Homo sapiens: one gene and its partners. The protein of the gene in region 3 purifies or fractionates together with the protein of the main gene of each other region. This does not show direct contact. Each region holds a gene or a part of one and is shown on either strand. Other genes may lie near its edges.

What was found.
Region 1: the proteins of MAP1A (region 3) and RAPGEF3 purify together in Homo sapiens (affinity purification with western blotting, with the first as the bait; one study listed by BioGRID). This does not show direct contact.
Region 2: the proteins of MAP1A (region 3) and NUP155 purify together in Homo sapiens (affinity purification with mass spectrometry, with the first as the bait; one large-scale study listed by BioGRID). This does not show direct contact.

Annotation. Positions count from the first base shown.
Region 1 is NC_000012.12:47,741,881-47,745,380, forward strand, and holds part of RAPGEF3 (rap guanine nucleotide exchange factor 3), read right to left. Parts: intron 2,189-3,500; coding exon 2,107-2,188; intron 1,797-2,106; coding exon 1,650-1,796; intron 1-1,649. UniProt on the Homo sapiens protein: Guanine nucleotide exchange factor (GEF) for RAP1A and RAP2A small GTPases that is activated by binding cAMP.
Region 2 is NC_000005.10:37,308,607-37,312,106, forward strand, and holds part of NUP155 (nuclear pore complex protein Nup155), read right to left. Parts: intron 2,138-3,500; coding exon 1,946-2,137; intron 967-1,945; coding exon of another isoform or gene 916-966; exon of another isoform or gene 817-915; intron 662-816; coding exon 523-661; intron 1-522.
Region 3 is NC_000015.10:43,526,683-43,530,689, reverse strand, and holds part of MAP1A (microtubule-associated protein 1A), read right to left. Parts: coding exon 1,182-4,007; intron 1,041-1,181; coding exon 820-1,040; intron 622-819; coding exon 466-621; 3' UTR 1-465. UniProt on the Homo sapiens protein: Structural protein involved in the filamentous cross-bridging between microtubules and other skeletal elements.

The sequences.
Region 1 (3,500 bases), on a different chromosome or scaffold from region 3:
AAATGGAGACAATAAGACTTGCCCCAACTATTTCATAAGTCAAATAAAATAATGTATATAAATAGTAGCTATAAGTACATGCTATGTATAAAAGCCCTTTGAAAATTGGGAAGTGTCTTATATAAGCCTTGGTGTTGATTTTCATCAGCTCCTCATGGACTGGGACTGTGCTTGAGTCCCCAGTCCCTAGAGCAGTGGCCTCCAAAGTAAGGTACATCAGATCATCCATGTGCCTGGGGAAAATATGAGCTCTTCTACTTACGTTTACTTTTTCTACCTGCTTTGCATTTCTACTCCATCAATTTCTATTTTATCTATCTTTATTATGATATTAATGTAGTAATATATGTGTATTACTTACAAACAAATATTCACACAGTGGGGTGTGGGTTTTAATTAAATGTTGGTTATTGACATGGGTGTCGATCCAAGTGCTTCGGAGATCAGTGCTCTAAACAGTGCCTGGCACATAGTAGGGTCTCAATAAACATGACCTTTGGGCAACTGCAACTCACCAGGTGGCCAGCAGAGGGCAGTGCTTCCCAGGGCAGGGCACACAGGTGACCATCTCTCCCCACTTCCTGAAGGGAGAAGGCTTTTCTTTTCTCATCCCCACTTCTTGAACGCCCCTAATTCTTGTCTGCCCTGGGTTCCAGCTGTCAAGCCCGTGCCCTCCGCAGAGAACAGTGGTTTTGAATGTTCCAGGTTCTCTGGAGGCCCATCTTAATACTCCTGAGCCCGCCATGTTCTCAGCACTGACTGGCAGGCCCTGTGCTAAGTGCTTTACACACATTAGCTCACTTAGCCATTGCAACCCTGTGGGTAGATACAATTACAGTCCTCATCTGACAGGTGAGGAAATGCAGGCTCAGAGAGGTTAAGCAACTTGCCCAGCATCACACAGCTAGTAAATGGTGAGCCTAAGATGCCTTCACGGGTCTGGGAGTCCACCGTCTATGCTCTTAACCATCAAGCTGACCTGTTTTACCTGCTGTGGTATCTCCAGCTCCTAACATATTGCTGGCTCATAGCTGATCCTCAAAAATGTTTGCTGAGTGACTAAACAAATGAAGACTACTTAAGTTCCAAGACCAGCTACTCTCACTGTGTGAGCTTGAGGAATAGCTCATGCCCTTTGAGCTTCAGTGTTCTTGTCTGAAAATAGGATAAAAGTACCTGTATCTCATGAGATTGTTATTAATTCATATTAAATGACTAAACACAAATGATGATAATAATAGCAGCTAATACTTATGTATCACTATGTGCCGGGCACCATTCTAAATGCTTTCATAGATGAACTCAATTGATCCTCACAATTCCTCCAGGAGGCAAGTACTCCTACTATTCCCATTTTATGGATGATAAAACTGAGCACAGAGGGATGAAGTACCCTGCCAGAGGACACACAGATGGTGAGCTAAAGGGCTGGTGCCGAATGCAAGCAGCAGGCTCCAGAGCTCATGCTCTTACACACTGCATGAAATGCACTTCGAACAGACGCACTCCACCTCCCATTAATGCTAGCCATCATTCACACTGAGGAAGACCAGAAAGATGACAATGATGACAATGATCTTGACTGGGGGACCTGGGCGCAGATCCGAGGGGCCACCCTCCCTTGGGGTCTATCCAGGGGCACAACTCACCACCTGCAGAATTGACCTTCACCAGCACCTGCCCCTTGGTCCAGCCATCCTCCTGGGCCAACGCTGCCATCACCTCTCTCACGGAGGCTGTCACAGGCAGCTGCAGGGTCAACACTGAGTGGTCTGGCCGGCAGATGTCATAGGGGACTGAAGAGGAGACCAGACTGAGCTGTGGGAAGGGCTGCCTGATCTCCACCCCAGGAGGGAGAGGGCGGCTATTGCAGTAATGGTGGGAGGGATCCCCAAGAGGCTGAGCTGCAGGTGGGGAGGCCCTGAGCAAAAAAGAGGCAGGTAGGAGGCAGATCTAGCCAGCAGCCTGGAACACAGACCCTGAGGAGTACAGCGTGCCACCTTGGCCCAGGCACACCGAGGTCAAGAGTGACGACAGCAGGACAAGAGAGGCAGAGACAGCAGGGTGCAGATGTCGGGCTGTGCCCAGCCGGCACAGACCACCAACCTTTATCCCCAACTTGGATGGCACAGCTGCTGCCAGGAAGGGGCTCGTCCTGGTTGGGGAGCCAAACAGGCAAGTTCCGGGCCTGGGAGGAAGAGGAACGAGAAAATAAGGCTGGGAGGACATGAGAGGAGACCGTGGAGGGAGGGATTGTGAGGTCCCTGTGTCACCAGGAGCACGGGCGCCACACAGCATTCACACCACCAGAGGGCTCTGCTTGCCACATTCACCTGAGCTCAGGTAAGGCACCTGGGACCAAGGATCCAGGAGAAGACACAACATGTCTAAGGGCGGGGCAAATCCATGCCCCTCCGTGTGTGTGTGCTTCTGCATCTGCCAGATAGGTCCAGAGCAGTTCTAATATGAAAATCCTTCAGCTGCTGACTTTGGTTTTCTCTTCCTTTTCCTCCAGCTACCATTTGCTACAAGCCAGGCATTATTCTGAGGATCTAAATATTCACAATGCGCCTTTGACAAAAGTATTATTTTTATTTCCATTTTATGGATGAAATAAATGAGGCTCAGAGAGGTTAAGTAACATGCCCAAAGCCACACAGCTGCTAACTGGCAGAGTTGGAATCCCTCCTGCTCCTTTCCCCCTCTGTGCTCCGATACTGTGTCAGTGGCCCTGTCCCAGCCCACAGCAGGGATGCAGTTCATGGAAACCACTGTCAGGCCTCTGCTGGCAGGGCAGCGCCTGCCAGGCAAGTCTCCTGACTCAGGTTCCCCTTCCCACCCTGCTTTTTTCCGACTCTGGTACTGACTCTGTCCCTCCTCCCAGCTCTGCGTATAGCAGATCCTCCAGGTTCGGACCTCAATCCATTGCTCTTCCCTACATTTCCAAATCTCAGGGACCCCTGCAGAGTTCCTTACTGCCTCATGTGTCGCCTGCACATGGGTGATTCCCAAAACTACCAGCAGTGCTGAACTCTCTTCCAAACCCTGGTCTCAAAAACCCCCTGCATCCTTCCACATGAATGATCCATTACCTCACACTCCATATACCCATCGGATCCTTGCATCCTGCCTCCCAGACCACTCTGTTCCCCAGCCATTCTCCCCAGCTCCAGGCTCCTCCACACTTCCGTAGCTTGTCATCTTGCTTTGAAGATTCTTCTTTGAAGTGGGTCTTCTGTGCCCCCTCCTCCCCTGCCCAGGCTAACTCCAGTTCCACCTGCCCACGAGGCCTCACTCCTTATCTACTCCAATGGCCCAACTATGCTCCTCCTCCTCCCTCCCAGGTGCCTCCAGCCCTCCTCCTCCAATCTGCCTGACCAGAGCCCTGTGAAGCTCCCGCACTCGACTTCAGTGGCGTCCATTGTCTGCTGGAGAAAGCCCAGGCTCTTTAGCTGACCTATTCAAAACACAAATCAGACTTTGCCAACCTTGGCTCAAAC
Region 2 (3,500 bases), on a different chromosome or scaffold from region 3:
ATGGCGTGAACCTGGGAGGCAGAGCTTGCAGTGAGCTGAGATCGCACCACTGCACTTCAGCCTGGGTGACAGAGCAAGACTCTGTCTCAAAATAAAAAAAATAAAAAAATAAAAAAATAAAAAATTAGCTGGGCGTGGTGGCGTGCGCCTGTAATACCAGCTACCCGGGAGGCTGAGGCAGGAGAATTGCTGGAACCTGGGAGGCAGAGGATGCAGTGAGCTGAGATCGTGCCACTGCACTCCAGCCTGGCTGACAGAGCGAGACTCTCAAAAAAAAAAAAAAAAAAAAAAAAAAGTACATTTCAAAAAATAGAAAGAACATTACAGCTTCTGCAGGTCAGTGTAGTCATCAAATATTGCAACACAATGATACCACATTCCTACGTCCTTTCACTCGGCCTCTGATGCTGAAAGAAGATTTGCATCTGGAAAGTGGCTTTTCATCATTAGCTTGCTTCATTCATACACTATTGTTTGTCTTTTGAGTTGAGTAAAAGATACAAGAAACATTTTATTTCTCACCTTGTCTATACTGAGCACAAACATTGGAAAGGTCCACTTGATTGCTAATTTTTTGATATTCCTTTAATGATTCCCTTAACATTCTTTCTTTTTCAGTCTTATTTTGAACTTGTCGGGAACGCTGGAGAAGCTCATTTGCCTAGAAGAGGAGATAACAAGAACTTAAAAATATATAAAATCAAGCAGACAGATGATGCTGTCAACTAAGTTTTAGTCTATGTCTAAATTTATATATGGTTATTACCATTAAAATGAAAACAACTCTACAAACTTACTTCTTAATTTTAGGCAGAAAAGTTTTTGACCAAAGATTCCTAGCTATTCTTAATTCCTCTCCCAAATATGTTAAGCAAGAGAACTTTTGTCTGGTAATTCTCTTGCCTAGTCAATACATTATTGGGCAGCAGGCAGTCCATGTGACACTGATTTATTTATTTTTTCCACCTGTAGGAAAGGATCAATAAAAATGCCCCCATTAACTCTAATTCACTAAAAGATTTACTTGAAGTTTTAGTACTTTTCCTTAAGCTAAGGAGATAAATTATCCCCTAAATTTCCTTAATTTCTAAATTTAGTGATTTTTCTTAATTTCTCACCTTTGGTTTTTTAATATGGCCTAGAAACACTATCAAAGATTCTTTATGGGCCAGGCGCAGAGGCTCATGTCTATAATCCCAACACTTTGCAAGGCTGAGGCAGGCGGAGGTCAGGAGTTCAAAACCAGCCTAGACAACATGGTGAAATCCTGTCTCTACCAAAAATATAAAAAATTAGCCAGGTGTGATGGTGCACACCTGTAATCCCAGCTATTTGGGAGGCCGAGGCAGGAGAATCACTTGAACCTGGGAGGTGGAGGTTGCAGTGAGCTGAGATCGTACTCAGTCTTAAAAAAAAAGAGAGAATATTCTTTATGAAAAACTTAAAGGAGGGCTGGGCATGGTGGCTCACACTTATAATCCCAGCACTATGGGAGGCTGAGGCAGGAGGATCACTTGAAGCCAAGAGTTCAAGACCAGCCTGTGCAACAAATCAGAACTTGTCTCTATAAAAAACAAAAAAATTGGCTGGGTGTAGTGGTGCACACCCGTAGCCCCTAGCTACATGAGAGGCCTGCTTGAGTCTAGGACTTAGAAGCTGCTGTGAGCTATGATCACAGCACTGCACTACAGCCTAAGCAACAGAGTGAAACCCTGTGTCAAATAAATAAATAAAAATATTTTTAAAAAGAAAAGCTAAGCTTAAAAGAGTATACACTGGTTTTAAGAAGCCACATATTCCAACCCCTTTCTTAGATGAGGATTCTGAGGCTAGGAGAGGTTAAGAGATCTAACTGACTGAGGTCCTATATTAAGTGAAACAAGATGGTTCATCATACATGATACCTCTTATAACAAACAATGAAATAGGTAATAAAGTATCATACCTTAGAACAAATTGCATCATCAGTGCTATATAGAAGTGGGCAGATATCCTGTAAATGTAAACTAATGCCATCAACAGCGGCATTATCTCTGATGTAGCAGTTGATAAGAGAAGCAATTAATGCCCCTGTGAGTTCTTTGTCCCTGATTACAAGATCTTTAAAGGTGGTGATCTTCAGCTGCTCTTGAAGTTCCTAGGAGCATAAAACTTTTCTATCACAATTATAGAAATACCATATTTCTAAACATAATGAAATTATTTTAATAAATTAAAATAACCTAAATATTAATAGACTCTATAATTGAAAAGCGAAAATATACTAATTAGTAGAAACAAATTTTTGCGAACTTACATAAAATCATAGAGAGTTGGAAAAGAACCTACAGTAGATCTAGTCCAAAACTCTCACTTTCCAAATGAGAAAAGTAAAGCTTAAGTAGAGCCAAAACTAGAGTCAGATCTCCTGGCTTTGGTTATAAAATGGAAAAAACAATCACTTGGCTATATTTGAAAATCTTGGGCTTACATATTACTCCTTCCTAAACACTGTTAGAATTCCATTATTCTAGGCCTTATAATAATATTGGAGTTTAATCTGTATTGTGAACAAATCTGCTTGTCCAAATGAAGCTCTAAAGTATTGATTTATACTATAGTAAAAGATTCTGTTAGTGATGTGACTGCTATCTCTTTTTTCTAAATTCAAGGAAATACCCAAACTGTGTTAAAATTCTTGAACAAATCTTTAATTTGCATTCATTGAGCATGCCATTGGTGATGTAAGGAAGAGAGCTTTGAAGATGGATCACAAAAACATACCCAGGATAAAAACCTACCTACAATATATTTATCACTCTATAAAACTCAAAATTATTATTCTACTTGGTATGAAAAAGATAAGTTTCATAATTAAATATATTAGCTTGAATTTTTAAAAATAAAAAACAGTATGTATTTAAAAGAAACAAAACCACCAACAAAAGCCACACTATTCATTGGACACTAGTGGAAAGAATGAGGAGACTGCCTTCCAACGTTGAAAAATGGTATACGAGAGTCAAAAAGTAAGTGTTTCAGAGTAATGAAATATCCATACAGGACAAGGAAAAAGAATTTTTTTTTTTTTTTTTACAGAATTGCAGCTAGTAACTGGGGAAGGAATCACAGATTTAAAATATTATCCTTTTGGCCGGGCATGGTGGCTCATGCCTGTAATCCCAGCACTTTGGGAGGCCAAGGCAGGTAGATCACCTGACGTCAGGAGTTCAACACCAGCCTGGCCAACATGGCGAAACCCGGTCTCTTACTAAAACTACAAAAATCAGCCAGGCGTTGTGGCACATGCCTGTAGTCCCAGCTACTCGGGAAGCTGAGGCAGGAGAACTGCTTGTACCCGGGAGGTGGAGGTTACAGTGATCTCAGATTGCTCCACAGCACTCCAGCCTGGGTGACAGAATGAGACACTGTCTCAAAAAAAATAAAAAACAAACAAACAAATAAATAAATATTACCCTTTTGTAATCCTAAATGAAATAATAAATTCCAGCAATGATTAT
Region 3 (4,007 bases):
TCTGGGCACCTCACTGACGGTATCCTGCCCCAGGTCACATAAATTACTATTGGAAATCCCTCCCAGGATGCCAAATAAATAGATTGAGATAAAGAGGTCCCTGGAGTTGGGGATATAATCTCCCTCTACGAGGGAGGAGGTTGCTCTCTGAGACCCATCCTCAGTCCCCATTCAATACCAGCATTTGACAGTGCTAGGAGAGGGTTCTCAGGCATCAGATGCTATCCTATTCTAATTTGTCCCCTCCCCCATCCTCTCCCTGTTAACTTTGGTTTGAGACACCTCACAGGAATGGATGATGGGGAGGGACAACCCCTCCCATTTAGCCCAGCCCAAGTCCCCACAACAAGACATCTCCCTCCCCTCCCCCTAGCTCCCATCTCCCTCAACCCCAAAGGACTCAGCAGTAGCCATTCTCTAAAGGAGCTGGGGGAGTGGATCCTTGGGGAAGGGAGGGCGGCTCTTTCAGAACTCAATCTTGCAGGCAGGGAAGGACTCATCCTGCATCACCACGGTGCTGCTGCTAGCCAGGACCAGGACATTCAGTTGTTGCTGCTGCTCATGAGTTTGTTGGTACCACTCACGAGTCACCTCCGTGTCATGAGTAGGGATCAGAGTCACCTAGAAGGGAGATAAGATATGTCTGATGTGAGAACATAAAGGGAAGGTAGGTGAGGGGGAAGGGGCACCTCATGGTCTCAGAAGCAGCTCTGCTGCCCTTAGAAAAGGCCCATCCTTTAATAAATAGGGACTGTGTTCCACTACTGCCTCTGAGTGAGCGTTGACCAGACTACTTCCTTGGTGTCCTTTGCTACTCACCTGAAGATTCTCCCCCCACTGGGCCTTGCCCTCCAGCAGGGCATCCAGCACAGCCCGGCTTGGCTCGCCATTGGCAGGGTCATTCCCACTGACCACATAGTAGGATGCACGCACTCGACGGAAGAAGTCAAGGTCAGCAGTCTTGCCACTGCAATGATTCGGGATGTAGGCGAGATCCACATATACAGGGGCACCAGAGCTGCCCTTGGAACTCAAGGCCACTGTAGAGACAAGCCAGGATTCATTGTAGAGGAAAAGTAGAACCCTTTTGGCAACCTTCCCCTCTGTCCCACTCCTGAAGTCTGACCAGCCCACACCCAGCCCTAACCCACACTCTCTGCCAAGTTTCATGATATACTTACTTGGTCCTGCCTTGAGTCCATTGACTAGGCCTTTGGACATGGGGCTGTGTCCATCCTTTTCCTCTGCTGGGGTGACCTGGCTTGTGGTGCTGCGTGGTCGAGGTGGGGCCCGGGATGCTCGATCTGCAGGCCCTTTACCAGGGGTGGGTGAGCGTTTTCCCCGAAGATCCAGACGCCGTGCAGGGGACGCTGGCTTGGCCTTGCCTGGGGCCCTGCGCCCTACTCGCCCCTGAACCTTTTCCTTCTCCCGTAGCCTCTCTACTCTCCCAGACTCTGAGCTGAGCCCCTCGGGGTCAGCCATGCACACATCAGGGCGGGGAGGGGATGGGCGGGGGTCTGGCTGTGGGAGAGGAGGTGGGTCATGGCCAGGCCTGGGGTGGTGAGTACCACTGACACCCCCAGCTTTGTCCACAGGTAGGAAGTCTCCATCTTCATCTGAGTCGAGGGCTGCCTCAGCTGTGATGGACGGACACTCCTCAGTTTCTGGCGGGACATCAGAATCTGACTGTGAGGAGCCTGAGTCACTGGCTGATGTAGGGGGTGTCTCATCAGTCACAGGGCATGGGCCCCCAGTGGTCCCTGGCCCCCCTACCCGGCGCCGCCCCCCTCTTCCTACTAGCCGAACTTCCTCAGTTGAGAGGTCCCTATCATCTATGGATGGGGGCAGAGGTGGGTTCAGGAAGGATGGGGAGAGCTCCCCACGATGGGGCCGAGGCTCAGTGGCACATCCCTGGGGCCCAGCTTCGACCTCAGGAGAGGCACTGCTGGGTGGGCCCCCGGAGCCCCCTGCAGGACACACTGGCTGCTCAGGGGAGAGCAATGTGTCAGGCCGGGAGCTCCTCTCAGCTCCTTCAGGCCAGGCCCCACGTTCCCAGGCAGGGCAAGCCGCAGCCTCTTCATTTTCAGCCTTGGCTGGGGCAGGGCCTGGGGGGTTAGGGCTGGTTTCAGTTGGGCCATTGGCTGCACAATCCTCAGAGGGAACCTGGAAGGGGCTTGGCTTCTCCGTGGCTGCCTCTGAGCACTCCAGGTGGCACGGCAGGATGCCATCACCCATGTCTCCAGGCAGGCTTGGAGCTGGAGCTAGGGCCAAGTCCAGTGAAGCTGGGGGTGCTGGGCTCAGAGGAGTGAGGTCCCAGAGGCTGTGGGCAGCTGGTTCCATTCCTGGGTCCAGCTCTCCAGACTCCTGTTCTGCAGCCTCAAGGCTTGGAGAGAAGCGCTCCGCCACACTTGAAATCACAGGCGTGGTAGCCTCAGAGGAGGAGCCCTCAGACAGGGCTGGTGAGGCAGGTCGTGGCAGATTGGAGAGGAGAGGGGCCCCAGGAGAACTGGGTGATGGGAGCTGGGGCAGTGAGGAATCCAGGCTGGGGGCCTTGGTCACTTCCAGGTATTCATCATGCCGGGTTCTGGTGGGGGGTCCTGGAGCCAGAGCCAGAGCTCGATCCCCAGAGAAGGCAAGGGAGCCACAGGGTGCCGAGCGGGGTTCAGCTGGAGAGGGCAGCTGTGGGGGAGCTGGCTGCAATGAGGAGAAGCCAAAGGCTGAAGCAGGGAAGTCCAGACTGGGTCGGGCAGGCCCCAGGTGTGAGTCCAAGGGAGGGCTAACATGTGCCTCAGTTTCTGGCCATAATGTGGGGGACCCCATAGGAATGGGGTGAGGAGGACTTGGGGATTGGGCCTCTTTTTCTGGCTGTTCCCGAGCCCCCTTCTCCAGTTCTGAGTCACTAGTGCTGTCATCCCAGTGACTCCGGCCTGATTCCTTGGGGGATGGGGACCTCCTATCTGGGCTGCAGCTCAGGATGTTACCATTAAGAGGGGGGCTTGGGCCTTTGCTCAGGATAGGAGCACGGGGGGGAACTGCAGGTGGGGTGAGGCTGGGCTCCATACTTGGCCCTGGCTCTGGCCTTGGGGGTACAGTGGGTCCTGCCAGGGCTGCATAGCTGAAGGTTGGAGTGTCAGACTGGAGGCTCTTGGGTGAGATAGGAGATGAAAGCTCCTTCTCTGCAGATGTGTTTCGGCCGGCAGCTGCCTCCTTGGTTGAGAGGCATGGGGGCCAATCCCCAGCTGCTCCAAGTGGAGGCTCTCTAGTGGGGCATGCAGGGCCAAGCCCAGTAAGCATCATCTGCTCATAGATGTCTGCATACTGAAAGCTTCTCTCATCAGGATAGGGTGTGGGCTCTCTCTGCTCCGGCTCAGTCTGCTCAGGCTCCGTGGTGGCATGGCTTTTGCTGGCCTCTGGTACCTTTGAGCTGTGTGAGCTTTTGTCAGGAGCCTCAGCCCTACCTTCTTCTTCCCTTTCCCCTTCAGCCTTGCGGTAGTCCTTCCCCAGGGGGGAGTATGGCCCACCTTCCAACTCAGCTGCCCCCTCCTGCACTGCAGCCACCACACTGTCATACTCGGCTGTGCCCCAAGAGAAGGGTGCAGGAGTATGGGATTCCGGGGCAGGTGTGGGGGGACCAGGAGCTGGGGAGAGGGGTGCAGGGGGGAGGGGTCTGTCCTTGGGCACCCAGGGTGGGATGTCAGCCAGCCATGAGGGAGTAGTGGGTTCATTCTTCATGTGTGGCATGAGCTTAGGGTCTGGGATAGGACTCTCTTGTCCTGGGGCTGAAGGAACCCTTTGTCCAACCATCTCAGGTGGGGAAGCTGGAGGGGAGATGATCTCAAAGGGAGAGCGGGTCAGTTTGTCCTCTTCCTCTGGTGGCAACCCAACTGGTGATTCAGCAAGCCAGCGCTCCACCTCTAGCCCCTTCTGTGGTGAGGATTCCTGGAAATCCTTGAAGTCTGAGGCCCAGGGGCTCCGGGTTGCGTGTTCCCGCAGGGGTACTTCTTGCT